Linked DNA regions of Homo sapiens. The protein of the gene in region 1 interacts with the protein of each later gene in a biochemical or structural test. Each region holds a gene or a part of one and is shown on either strand. Other genes may lie near its edges.

What was found.
Region 2: of the proteins of LMO7 (region 1) and DAPK3, one has a biochemical effect on the other in vitro, tested with the Homo sapiens proteins (one study listed by BioGRID).

The regions. Positions count from the first base shown.
Region 1 is NC_000013.11:75,631,436-75,639,329, forward strand, and holds the start of LMO7 (LIM domain only protein 7), read left to right. Parts: upstream 1-4,894; 5' UTR 4,895-5,222; coding exon 5,223-5,291; intron 5,292-7,894.
Region 2 is NC_000019.10:3,957,644-3,961,303, forward strand, and holds the end of DAPK3 (death-associated protein kinase 3), read right to left. Parts: intron 3,519-3,660; coding exon 3,366-3,518; intron 2,462-3,365; coding exon 2,416-2,461; intron 1,995-2,415; coding exon 1,458-1,994; 3' UTR 810-1,457; downstream 1-809. UniProt on the Homo sapiens protein: Serine/threonine kinase which is involved in the regulation of apoptosis, autophagy, transcription, translation and actin cytoskeleton reorganization. Involved in the regulation of smooth muscle contraction.

The DNA.
Region 1 (7,894 bases):
TCATGCTTGATGCCATCACAGGTTGAGTCTTTAGAAGCTGACAGAAATGGCATTGGAGGTATAAGATATTAACTAGGGCTGGATCCCTGTGAAAGGAAGAGGGAAGAAGCAGGGGTGGGTGAGGGAGGTGAACTGTGGTACAGTCCTGCAGCCTCAGCAGACCCCAGGGTCTACTGTAAAGGCCTATCAGTGTTGTCCCATTGGGTGGAAATGGCTGGGCTTTTATAATCTTAAGTCATTCACTGACCAGATGAGGGCTGTCCTGGGAGGGGAAGGACCTCACGTGAGGCTGCACTCTGCAGCTGAGGCCAACTTTGAAGGAGCTGATAGCTGGGGGTATCTGTTGACCACACTCTCCAAGGCTGGGCAGCAAGTAGCAAGTCCTCCTGTGAAGCAAGTCCTCATATGACACTCCTATGGGGCATCTCTGTGTCTACCGCCGTTACTCATTCTGTGCATATATGTTTGCTTAGGTCCTTGGTATAAATTCCAAGAAGTGGAATTGCTGGGACAGAGTGTGGGCATTTGAAAAACTTTTTATATTTATTGCCCAGTGACCTCCCAGAAAGATTGTACCCCTTTCTCCCATCAAGAGTTCATCAGTAATGCATCAATACATGACAATTGTACTGTTTTACATTTTTAAATATTGAAAGGTATCTCAAATTCCTTTGAAAAATAAATACAAATTTTGATGTTTTATTGTTGTGAATTTCATCTCAAACTCCTAAGGCAGGTGCTGTACCTTTCTCTATAGAGCTGTAGAAATCTTTCCAGAAGGGTAAAACATTCTAATGACTGATATTAGGAGGCAAAGAATTATATTTGGGTCTTCTGAGTTGCAAACTTTCAACATTAAAGAGGCCAAGCAGTGATTGGTGCCTGAGCTGACTTGAAACAGGATTTGCAAAACCCTCCAGCCTTTCCATATAACTATTTGAACAAATACATGAAATCTCCATTTTTTAGGAAAAATCTGACACACTGTTAGAAAGAGAGACCAAAGGGAAATAACCTTCAACCTTCATTTATTGAGTGCCTACTCTATGCTAAGCAATGCCTTGGGCTTTTATATCCACCATCATATTTAATTCTCACAACAATCCTTTGAAGTATTATCCATTATTCAGATGAAGAAATTGAAGCTTAGTGATTCTGGTAGCTTGCTAATATTGTAAGGCATTCAGATCCCCAAGGCTGTGCACTTCTTAACATTCTGGGCTGCCGCCCCCAAAGCTAGTTACACAGCAGCAGCTTTAAATAGTGTAATGTATGTATATATTAACTCTAATAATAATAATTCTTGTGAAGCTTGCAGAATGTCCTACTGGACTGAATAGTGCATAGGATTCAGCATCTAGAATTTTAAAATTTTGTGTCACTTATAACATCTAGCACATATGAGGTATTCACTAATTACTTAAAAGTTTTTTTTTTTTTTTTGTGATGGAGTCTCGTTCTGTTGCCCAGGCTGGAGTGCAGTGCCGTGGTCTCGGCTCACTTCAACCTCTGCCCTCCTGGGTTCAAGTGATTCTCCTGCCTCAGCCTCCCAAGTAGCTAGAATTACAGGTGGCTGCCACCACACCTAGCTAACTTTTTTTGTATTTTTAGTAGAGACCGGGTTTCACCATGTCGGCCAGGCTGGTCTTGAACTCCTGGCTTAGTGACCCGCCCGCCTCGGCCTCCCAAAGCGCTGGGATTACAGGTGTGAGCCACTGTGCCTCGCCGCACTTAAAAGTTTTTGAATAGCCGACAAGAGAGAAATATCTTTCCATTTTCTTTCATCATTCCATTTTCTTTTGGGGTTTGGCCTGATCAGAGTGCAGCCAAGAGGCAAAGAGATGGTTCAGTCAGTGGCCTCCCTTTCAGCAGGAACAGTTGTATTCCTGAAGCTTGCTCATCAGCTTTTCTAAACGGACCCACAGACTAGAGATAGTGCCAATAAAAAGTAGTTGAACAAAAATGAGCCTAACAAACAAAAACCATCACCCCAGTACGGAAGAATGTGGGTGGTGAACTGTTTACTCAGAAGAGATAGGTTCCAATCTAGCTTTTAGAGCTAACTTCCAGAGCACAGGAAGTACAGAAAGAAGAGAAATATGTTGAAGACACCACAAAGAAGCCTAAGATAAATCCAGAAGACAGCCTGGTTTTTTCAATAAGGCAATGTCATTCCAAAAAAAGGGGGAGTGTGGAGGAGGAGGAGTCTCTTTTGGGTTAAAAAAAGATGTGCTAAAATGCAATGGGTGGTCATGGATTGGATCCTGGTCTGAGTAAGTCAGCTGTAAAAGACATTTTTGGGTCAGTTGGAAGAATTTGATATGAGTTGATAATTATTGTTAGTTTTAGTTAGGTGTGAAAATAGCATTATGTTTATTTATGTTTATGTAGGAACGTGTCTTTTCCTTTTTTTTTTTTTTTTTTTTTTTTTGAGACGGAGTCTCGCTCTGTCCCCAGGCTGGAGTGCAGTGGTGTGATCCTGGCTTACTGCACCCTCTGACTCCCTGGTTCAAGCGATTCTCCTGCCTCAGGCTCCCAAATAGTGCCACCACGTCCAGCTAATTTTTTTTTTTTTTTGGATTTTTAGTAGAGACAGGGTTTCACCATGTTGTCCAGGATGATCTCAAACTCCTGACCTTGTGATCCACCCGCCTCTGCCTCCCAAAGTGGGAGAGTGTCCTTTTAAAAATGATATGTATATTGTACCATTTAGGGGTGAAATCTCCTATCTTTAAAACTCTCCACCAGGCTCAGCACTTTGGGAGGCCAAGGCAGGAGGACTGCTTGAGGTCAGAGTTTGAGACCATCCTGGACAACATAGTGAGACCCCTCTCTCTACAAAAAATACAGAAATTAGCTGGGTGTGGTGTCACTTGCCTGTAGTCGCAGCTACTTGGGAGTCTGAGGCAAGAGGATCGCTTGAGCCCAGGAGTTCAAGGTCACGGGGAGCTATGATGGCGCAACTGCACTCCAGCCTAGGCAACAGAGCTGTCTCTTAAAAAACTTAAAAAACAAACAAGAACGGCTGGGGGCGGTGGCTCACGCCTGTAATCAAAGCACTTTGGGAGGACGAGGCAGGCGGATCACGAGGTCAGGACATCGAGACCATCCTGGCTAACACGGTGAAACCTCGTCTCTACTAAAAAAATACAAAAAAATTAGCCAGGCGTGGTGACGGGCGCCTGTAGTCCCAGCTACTCGAGAGGCTGAGGCAGGAGAATGGCGTGGACCCGGGAGGCGGAGCTTGCAGTGAGCCGAGATTGCACCACTGCACTCCAGCCTGGGCGACAGAGCGAGACTCCTCAAAAACAAACAAACAAACAAGAACTTTGGGAGGCCGAGGTGGGTGGATCACCTGAGGTCAGTTCGAGACCAGCCTGGCCAATATGGTGAAACCCCGTCTCTACTAAAAATATAAAAACTAGCTGGGCATGGTGGTGGGCGCCTGTAATCCCAGCTGCTCGAGAGGCTAAGGCAAGAGAATTGCTTGAACCCAGGAGACGGAGGTTGCAGTGAGCCGACACGGTGCTACTGCACTCCAGCCTCGGCAACAGTGAGACTCCATCTCAAAACAAAACAAAACAAAACAAAACAAAACAAAACAAAAACAAACAGAAAGTAAATACAATTTAAAAAATTAAAAAATAAAACCCTCCAGCAGAAAAGGTGATACATAAGGCAAAAGGCAAACAGTTGTTAAATACAGACGCTAGGTTTTAGATAGTATTCTACTAGTCTCTGCTCTGTATCTGACGTTTTTCTTCATAAAAACAACCAGAAAAATAAGAACAAGAGTTTGCTTTCGTTTCAGCAGAGTAAGAACCGGTCTTTGTCTTCCGCCAAAGATGAAGCCATCAACCTGTGGCCTGGATAGTGCCTCAGGAGCGTGGAGTGAGGGACCAGGGAGCTCAGACAGATGAGTAGGCTCCTTTGTGGAGACCTGATTTGAGCACTGGTGTGAAAAAGACCCGCGCAAGCCGACCCGTGTGCCTCCCGCCCCGCCCCCAACCCCCCGGCCCTGCACACCTACCCAGGGCCGCGGCGGATACCGCATAACCTGCCACCTCGCTGTCCCCTGAGTGTCCTCAAACCACGAAGGGTGGGAATTTTGACGCTCACCGCGAGGGCGATCATCAAACGGCCTAAACTGGGCTGAGCGGGCGGGAAGTGGGGAATGCAAGGAACCCTCCAGCTTGCTCGAACCCTCAGCCGCGAGCCGGGGTGGAGGGGCAGGGACCCTCCTTCCACCGCACCCACCTGGAAGCCGGGCGGAGCGGGGCCGAACTCCGCCGGGGGGAAGCGGCAGCACGTGCCAAGGCCACGACCCTCCTCTGCCGCCGGGAGGGCCCGGCCGCCGCAGGGGGCGGGGAGCGTGGGAGGGGACGGCGCTCACCTGGCGGCTGGGCCGGATCGCGGCGGGAGAGCGGGTAGCGGGCTCAGCTGGCCGGGGCTCAGGTGAGGGCGGCGGGCCGCGCTCCCCAGCGGGGGAGGTTTCTTGGCCGGGAAAGGTACAATTGTGTGCAGCTATTTCTGGTATGTCAAGCGGGCCGGGCGGCCGCGAGCCGGGAGGGGCGCCGCTCTCAGGGGCCCGGGAGAGGGCAGGGGCCAGGCGGGCGGGTGCGGGAAGGATGCGGGCGCGGGGGCGCATCCTCTCGGGGCGGAGCCGCGGGCTGTGCGGGAACCCCAGCGGGGCCCGGGCCGCGGCCCCTGGCGGACTGTGGCATCTCCCGGGCCAGACAGTCTGACCACAGAGGCGGCCGCGGCCGGGAGCCCGGGGAGCCAAGGGAGGGGCAGACGGAAGCGGCGACTCGGCGGGCCCCGGGAGGGCGGTGGGGTGGGCCGGGGCGGGGCCACCGCGGGGAGGACGGCGGCGGCGCTGCGACTTTTGAAGTCCAAACTGTCGTCGGGGCTGGTGCCGCGCGCTGCCGCTGGGCACCCGCTTCGCTTCCCGCGTCCTGCCTGACTGCCCGGGTCCCCGCGGGCCTTGGGTCGCTTTCAGGAGTTTAGAGAAAGCCAGGTCTTCACGTTCGTGTAGGTTCGAGACCTTAACGAACTGCAGAGCGCAACAAAGGGAACTAGAGCCCCGGCGCCTTCGCAGCCGGAGCGGAAGCCGGAGTTGTGGGAGGCCCGCGTGCCCTCCCCGCCCGTGGGGCCCAGACGCGCGGGGACAACCCCTCCCCTCCACGCATCCCGAGTCTCTCTCTCCCTCCCTTGTCCTAGCCATGGAAGGGCTGGAGGAGGCAGAGGCCAACTGCTCCGTGGCGTTCGCTGAGGCTCAGAGATGGGTGGAGGTGAGTGCCTTTCACTGCTTTCCCTTCCGCAGGTGTTGACTGCCTCGGGGCGGTCGTCGCGAGGTGACTGCAGCCCCAGTCACTCTGCACTTTAGCCTCCTTCGGCGACCCAGCCGACGTGAACAAGCTGGTTTGCTTGTGCACTTTTGGGGACTCTGCGGGTTCTGCCGCTCCTGCATCTTATGTCCCGCTTAGATTGGCGCTGCCCTAACCCCCGCCCCCCGACGGTGTCACTGGCTTCCTAGGGCAGAGGTGGGCGTTCGCCTGCCGGCATCGCGCGTCCCGGAGGAGCAGCGCAGTCCGCCCTGGCTCGCCCGGGGCGTCTCTGCGGGGCACAGCCCAGAGCGCGCGGTGCAGAGCTGGGCCAGGGCTCTCGGGTGCATTCCCTCGGGGTGCCTAGAAGTGGGGATGCTCACCTTATACCTGAGAAGCCAGTGTATTCAGTGTGGAGGGGGGGAGCGGAAAAGAAGGGTGGGTGGGAGGGCAGGTGGAGGAGGTAACACACCGAAGGCCCACCTGGAAGGATGATTTCTCTGGGGCCGCATCCAAGCCCAGGGGGTAGGGGCCGGGGCATGTGCTTTTTCATTTTCGGCTTTGATGAGACTGAGATCCTAGGATCATTCGCTGAAGAGCTGTTACCCTCCCAGCTGTGCCTCACAGACAAGATCTTCCATTCCCTTCTTTCACCCTGAAAAAGAGCGGGTCTCTTCATTAACGCCTTGGGGCTACATTTATCTGTAGAAGGTTAACATCAGGACTTCTAGCCGTTATTCCACTGGACGCAAAAGATGACTTTTAAAACGAGGCAAAAGTCTTCCAAGCAGATGTGAATCAGGAACAACTGCTGAAAATTGAGGCGTGCACAAGCCCTGCAGTCATTTAGGAGTTATTGATGCCACGTGCTGGTTTAGTTAACATATTTAAAACTTCGAATTAGGCTTAAAGATTATTCCACGGAAAAAACTACATGTTTAAGAATTCCAAAGCGAACGATACTTGAAAATAATGTATTTTTCCTTAAAGAAATACATGTATGTGTGTGGAAAGAAAGAATAAATTACATTTCTTACGCTAAATAAAGGAATGTGAAATGTGAGTAGCATTAACCACGGGACAGTAGGGAGGTCTAAGGAATGAGCTTTTAGTGTCTTTTTAGATTGAAACTTTGAGCTGGTCTGAAGGTGACTTAGAAAGATGTGAAGGGAGGGGCATGGGAAGTTGAGAGAAGAATAAACGCTGTATTTTGAATTGAAATGAGAGTGGAAAAATTCCAGCAATATAGTTAAGAGAAATAACTTCCCTCATTCATAAACTTTGAAAAGCCAAGACTTCCAACTGTAATTTTCCATTAGCAGTGTGTGTTCTGCATAATTTTAGAAAACAAACTTGCCATTTTGTGTTTGAGTGTTGGGGATTGAAGGAGGGAGAAGGGGAGACGTGGGGACATGTTTTGGTCATACATGGCTTCTGTGTGGAGTTTGCATCTGCGTGCTTTGTATTTGCTTCAGGAAACATGAATAGGAATGATTCCACACCCTTCCCTTTTTTTTTAGTATGCACATTTTGGAAAACGATGAATTCCTTTTTTGTCCCTGCTTGCTCATAATTATGTAGGTTTTCTCCAAGAAATTTGTATGTAATGAATGGGGGGAAAGTGTATTGTGATAAAAGATATCATTGCGCATATTACATGTGGTCTGTTTTCACTCTCATCGCAGTCTATGTAAAGGTGTTTATCAGCAATGATTTGGCACCTCTATAATGTATTTTGTTCATCGTTAGCAGAGAGCTGGATCTTCCTAAAGGTACTGTCATATCCTTTTAATATAGTTAATGAAATTAAAATTTTTTTTCATCCCACTTGGAACAAGGCAGTATGTTTGCCTTCATTGTGTATATATGAGTAATTTACATGTTCAGATACTTTTAGTATACTCTGGGCATTTGAAATGACCACAGTGTGCTCACTGTTAGGGCTATTTTGTTTCTCCAGTGTCCACATCTATCTCTCTTGTCAGCTTTGCCTTTGCCACCAAAGCACATATTTTAAAATATTGTTCTTGCCAAAAGAAGCAGGATGAATGACTCTGTCATCATCACAACCTCTTTAAGAACCCCTAATCTGAAGATAAAAGGTTGATTCCAATGTGTATTTGTAAAGTATTCTTTCCCCTGCTTGCTGATAGTCTTGCTACATTTTGCCCTATTCCTTTACACATTACTGAAATATAGGAGGGTTTTTAAGTGTATATATTGTATATGTATGTACATATATACATATGTATTATAATATATGTTCTATCTGTATTACATATATATTCGCAACTGCAGCTTTGAATACCCCAAAGTCAACTCCAATAACCTTGTAAAGTTTTGAATGATGACTGGACTCCATGTCAGCATCTCCTTGTCATTTCCATTTTCTATCTGTGATTTTTAGTAGCTAATGTGTTATTCTCACAACCAAAGTTTATTTTTTAGAGTGGAGGAGGAAGAGTGAGGTAAGAGCTAGTGGTTATTATTCTGCCAATTATGATCACTTTATGAATCTTGTTTTTACTTATTTCAAATTGTACTTATATACTTGAGTATATATAAAAATT
Region 2 (3,660 bases), on another chromosome or scaffold:
ATGGTGAAACCCTGCCTCTACTAAAAATACAAAATTAGCCCGGTGTGGTGGTACATGCCTGTAAACCCAGCTACTCGCGAGGTTGGGGCAGAAGAATCGCTTGAACATGGGAGACGGAGGTTGCGGTGAGCCAAGACCACACCACTGCACTCCAGCCTGGGCAACAAGAGCAAAACTCCACCTCAAAAAAAAAAAAAAAAAAATTAGCCACGTGTGGTGGTGTATGCCTGTAATCCCAGACACCTGGGAGGCTGAGACAGGAGACCCGCTTGAGTCCAGGAGACCGAGGTTACAGTGAGCCAAGATCGCACCACTGCACTCCAGCCTGGGCAACAGGGCCAGACTCGCTCTCAAAAAAAAAAAAAAAAAAAAAAGCAAAAAAACTTCCTCCAGGGAGGATGGACAGGGTCGGGGCCCCTCTCTGAAACCACCTGTGAGCCCTAGCAGCTGAGCTGAGCCGCTCCCCCTCCAGGGCCACCTGCATGTGGCTCCAGACGGGGCAGGGGCTCCCACGTGGGACACAGCAGCATCCCGTAAGGCGCAAAGGGACAGGAAACGCTTCTGATCCACCTCAGCTGCCCAGAGCTTCCACCTCATTGCAATCAAAACACTCGGGGCAGCTGAGACCAAGATCCGGCAGCTCCCAGGACACCGTGAAGGTCTGCGAGGACCCCCGGTTTGTCCCCTCCTTCCTGAGCACAGCGGCAGGCATGGAACACAGAGAGAAACATGAACGCCGCGGAGGGCATATCCCCAGTGGCCAAGGGCTGGCTGTCCCCTGCCAAGGCCTGAGGCACACAACACCCGCGTATCTGGAAGCCAGTATTTTATTTCTCTTGGCTGCAGAGGGCCGCTCTTGCCTAGGCGTCCACAGGCGCGACGATGGGGCTCGCGGAGGAGTCCGCAGCAGGGCACCCCACACCCGGGGGACCGGCCTCGGCGAGAAGGGCACACAGTGGAAGACCCCACCAAGCCCGGCGCCACCCAGCAGCGTGGGGACTGCCTGTCCGCCGTCCATCCCACCCTCCCCGTCCCACGACCTCCTCCTGGGCTAATGGCAGCAACAGGCAGCACCCCGCCGAATTGTCCGTGCAACTACCCGCAAACCCTCCTCCGGGCCTGAACCAGGGCTGCATTCGGGCCGCCTCTGCGCCTCGGTGGGTCCCAACCCTCACGGTGCCACAGGCCACGCTGCCTGGAGGGTCCCAGGGTCACCGACGATGCAGGGGTGAAGGTGAAGGCCAGCGTGGAGGCTGTGTAGAGAAGCAGCCCCGTCCCACACCCACCCCTGCCTGCGAACTTACGGGCCTGGCTCCAGCTCCTCCCACTCCGCCTCCAGCCTGGTGGCGCTGGGCAAGGACAGGCACCCGGGCGATGGGAGGCGCAGCGTCCACAGGAAGCGCCCCCACCGCAGGCCGAGCTCCGGCTGTCCTGGGGCCTGGCCCACCCCACTGCGCCTAGCGCAGCCCGCACTCCACGCCCTGCAGCTTCTCCTGCTCCAGGGCGCGCACGAGGTCCTGCACGAAGCGCATCTCGGAGGCTACTTGCTTGGCCAGCGCCTCGTAGCGGTTCTCCAGGCGGCTGAAGCGGCGCTTGAGGCCGCTGGTCCCCAGCAGCGCGCCCTTGGCCTCCTCCTGCGCCTGCCGCTTGAGCGCCTCGGTCTTGAGCAGCTCCTGCCGTAGCCTCCGCAGGTCCTGGCCCAGGCTGTCGCTCTCCTCGCGGTACCAGGCCTCCTTCTCCTCGTAGATGGCGGCCAGCGCCTCCACGTCCTCGTGGCAGAGCCGCCGGCTGCGCTGCAGCTCGCGCAGGCCCTCCTCGGCGGCCGCCGCCTCCTCCAGCACCTTGGAGAAGCGCTCGAAGTCGGCGTAGCTGTTGTTGGGCGGCAAGCTGGAGTGCGACTTGATGGTGTACTCCTTCAGACGCGTGGTCTTCAGGCGCCGCCGCTCGGGCTTGCGGCCGCTGTCCTCACCACGCACGTTCCGCCGCCGGATCGCCTAGGAAGGAGGGAAGCCTGAGCGGGGTCCCCGCGATGCCACCCAGCCCCGCCAGCCCCCACCTGCCAGTGTGAACTGAGGTTCAGGGGCTCATCCGGCAGCAGAGTCAACGCCTCGTGACGGAGACTGCCCAGCCCGACGCAAAGCCGAGAGTGCTCTCTCGAGAAAAACGCTGCGGCCCTGGCCCCAGGAGTCAGCCCCGTTGGACACACACCAGCCAAGGATGCCACCAGGTCTGTCGGGTGCTGGACATCCCACGCCCAGGACCCAACCCCCGCCACACAGGCTCACTCCTCTGGGGACCCTCCCCAGCCACTGGGGGTTGTCACATCCACAAGCCTTAAATGCTGAAGGCCCCCCGGGACCCCAGCGAGAAGGCCAAGGCGGGAAGCCCAGGGAGCTCCCCCACCTCCCCACTTACCTTAATCCAGGAATGTTCCAGGCTCTGGGCAATGGTCATTCTCCGCCTGGAAGACCCCCGCTCTGGTTAGGTACACCTGCACCATCTGTCCCGTCCTCCCGTGAACAACTGACTCCCGGGACCCCCAAAAGCCCTAAAGTCGCCCCCCAGCCTCTGCTCAGCCAACCACAGAAGCTGAACAAGGGTACTGCAGGGAGCGTGGGGTTTTCTGGGGGGTGGTGGAGAGAGCTGAGACCTCAGGCTGGAGTCGCAAACCCAGGCGCCCGAGAGAGGGACTGGGCGGCCATGGAGGCCCGGGGAGGCCTACGAGTGAGGGCTCAGCACTGCCAGAATTCTAAGTGTTTACAGGAAAACAAGTGACCTGGAATTTTACATGGATCCTTACTTTACACACCGGCAACTAATTAAAAGTTTGCTAAAAACACAGCAAGCAGCCAGACACGGTGTCTCACGCCCGCAATCCCAGCACTTTGGGAGACCAAGGCAGGCAAATCACAAACCAAGGAGGTCAGGAGTTCAAGACAAGCCTGGGCAACATGGTGAAGCCCTGTCTCTACTAAAAATACAAAAATTAGCCAGGCGTGGTGGCGGGCGTCTATAATCCCAGCTACTTGGGAGGCTAACGCAGGAGAATAGCCTGAACCCGGGAGGCAGAGGCTGCAGTGAGCCGAGATCACGCCACTGCACTGCACTCCAGCCTGGGAGACAGAGCAAGACTCCGTCTCAAAAAAAAAGACTCCGTCTCAAAAAAAAAAAAAAAAAAAAACCATGGCAATGGCCAGCTTGGGCCACCAGTTTATCAGTTTACTCTCTCCAGCCCAAGGGGTAAGCAATGTCTGATCCCCAGCCGCAGGGAGGTGGCGCTGGGAGGAGAGTCCTCTGGAGCCTCCGTGGGTGGAGTGGGCCTGTGTCCCATGTCCCACCCCGTGCCCCCTGCCGGCCCCTCGTACTTGGGATCTTTGACGAGCAGCCGGCGAATGAAGTCCTTGGCCAGCTCGCTGGTGTTGCTGAAGTACTCCTCGTCGAAGTCGTAGTTCACGGCTGAGATGTTGGTGAGCGTCTCCTGCTTGGTCTCGCCCAGGAACGGGGATGCACCGCTCAGGCTGCGAGACAGGCGTGGGGGCTCAGTGGGGTCCTGGGCTCCCACCACGGCCGCGCCGCCTCTCCGGCTGCCCACGACAGGCGGAGCACAGAAGACAGGCTGACGGCAGGTGCCTGGGCCACTCACACTCCTGAGCCCTTAGA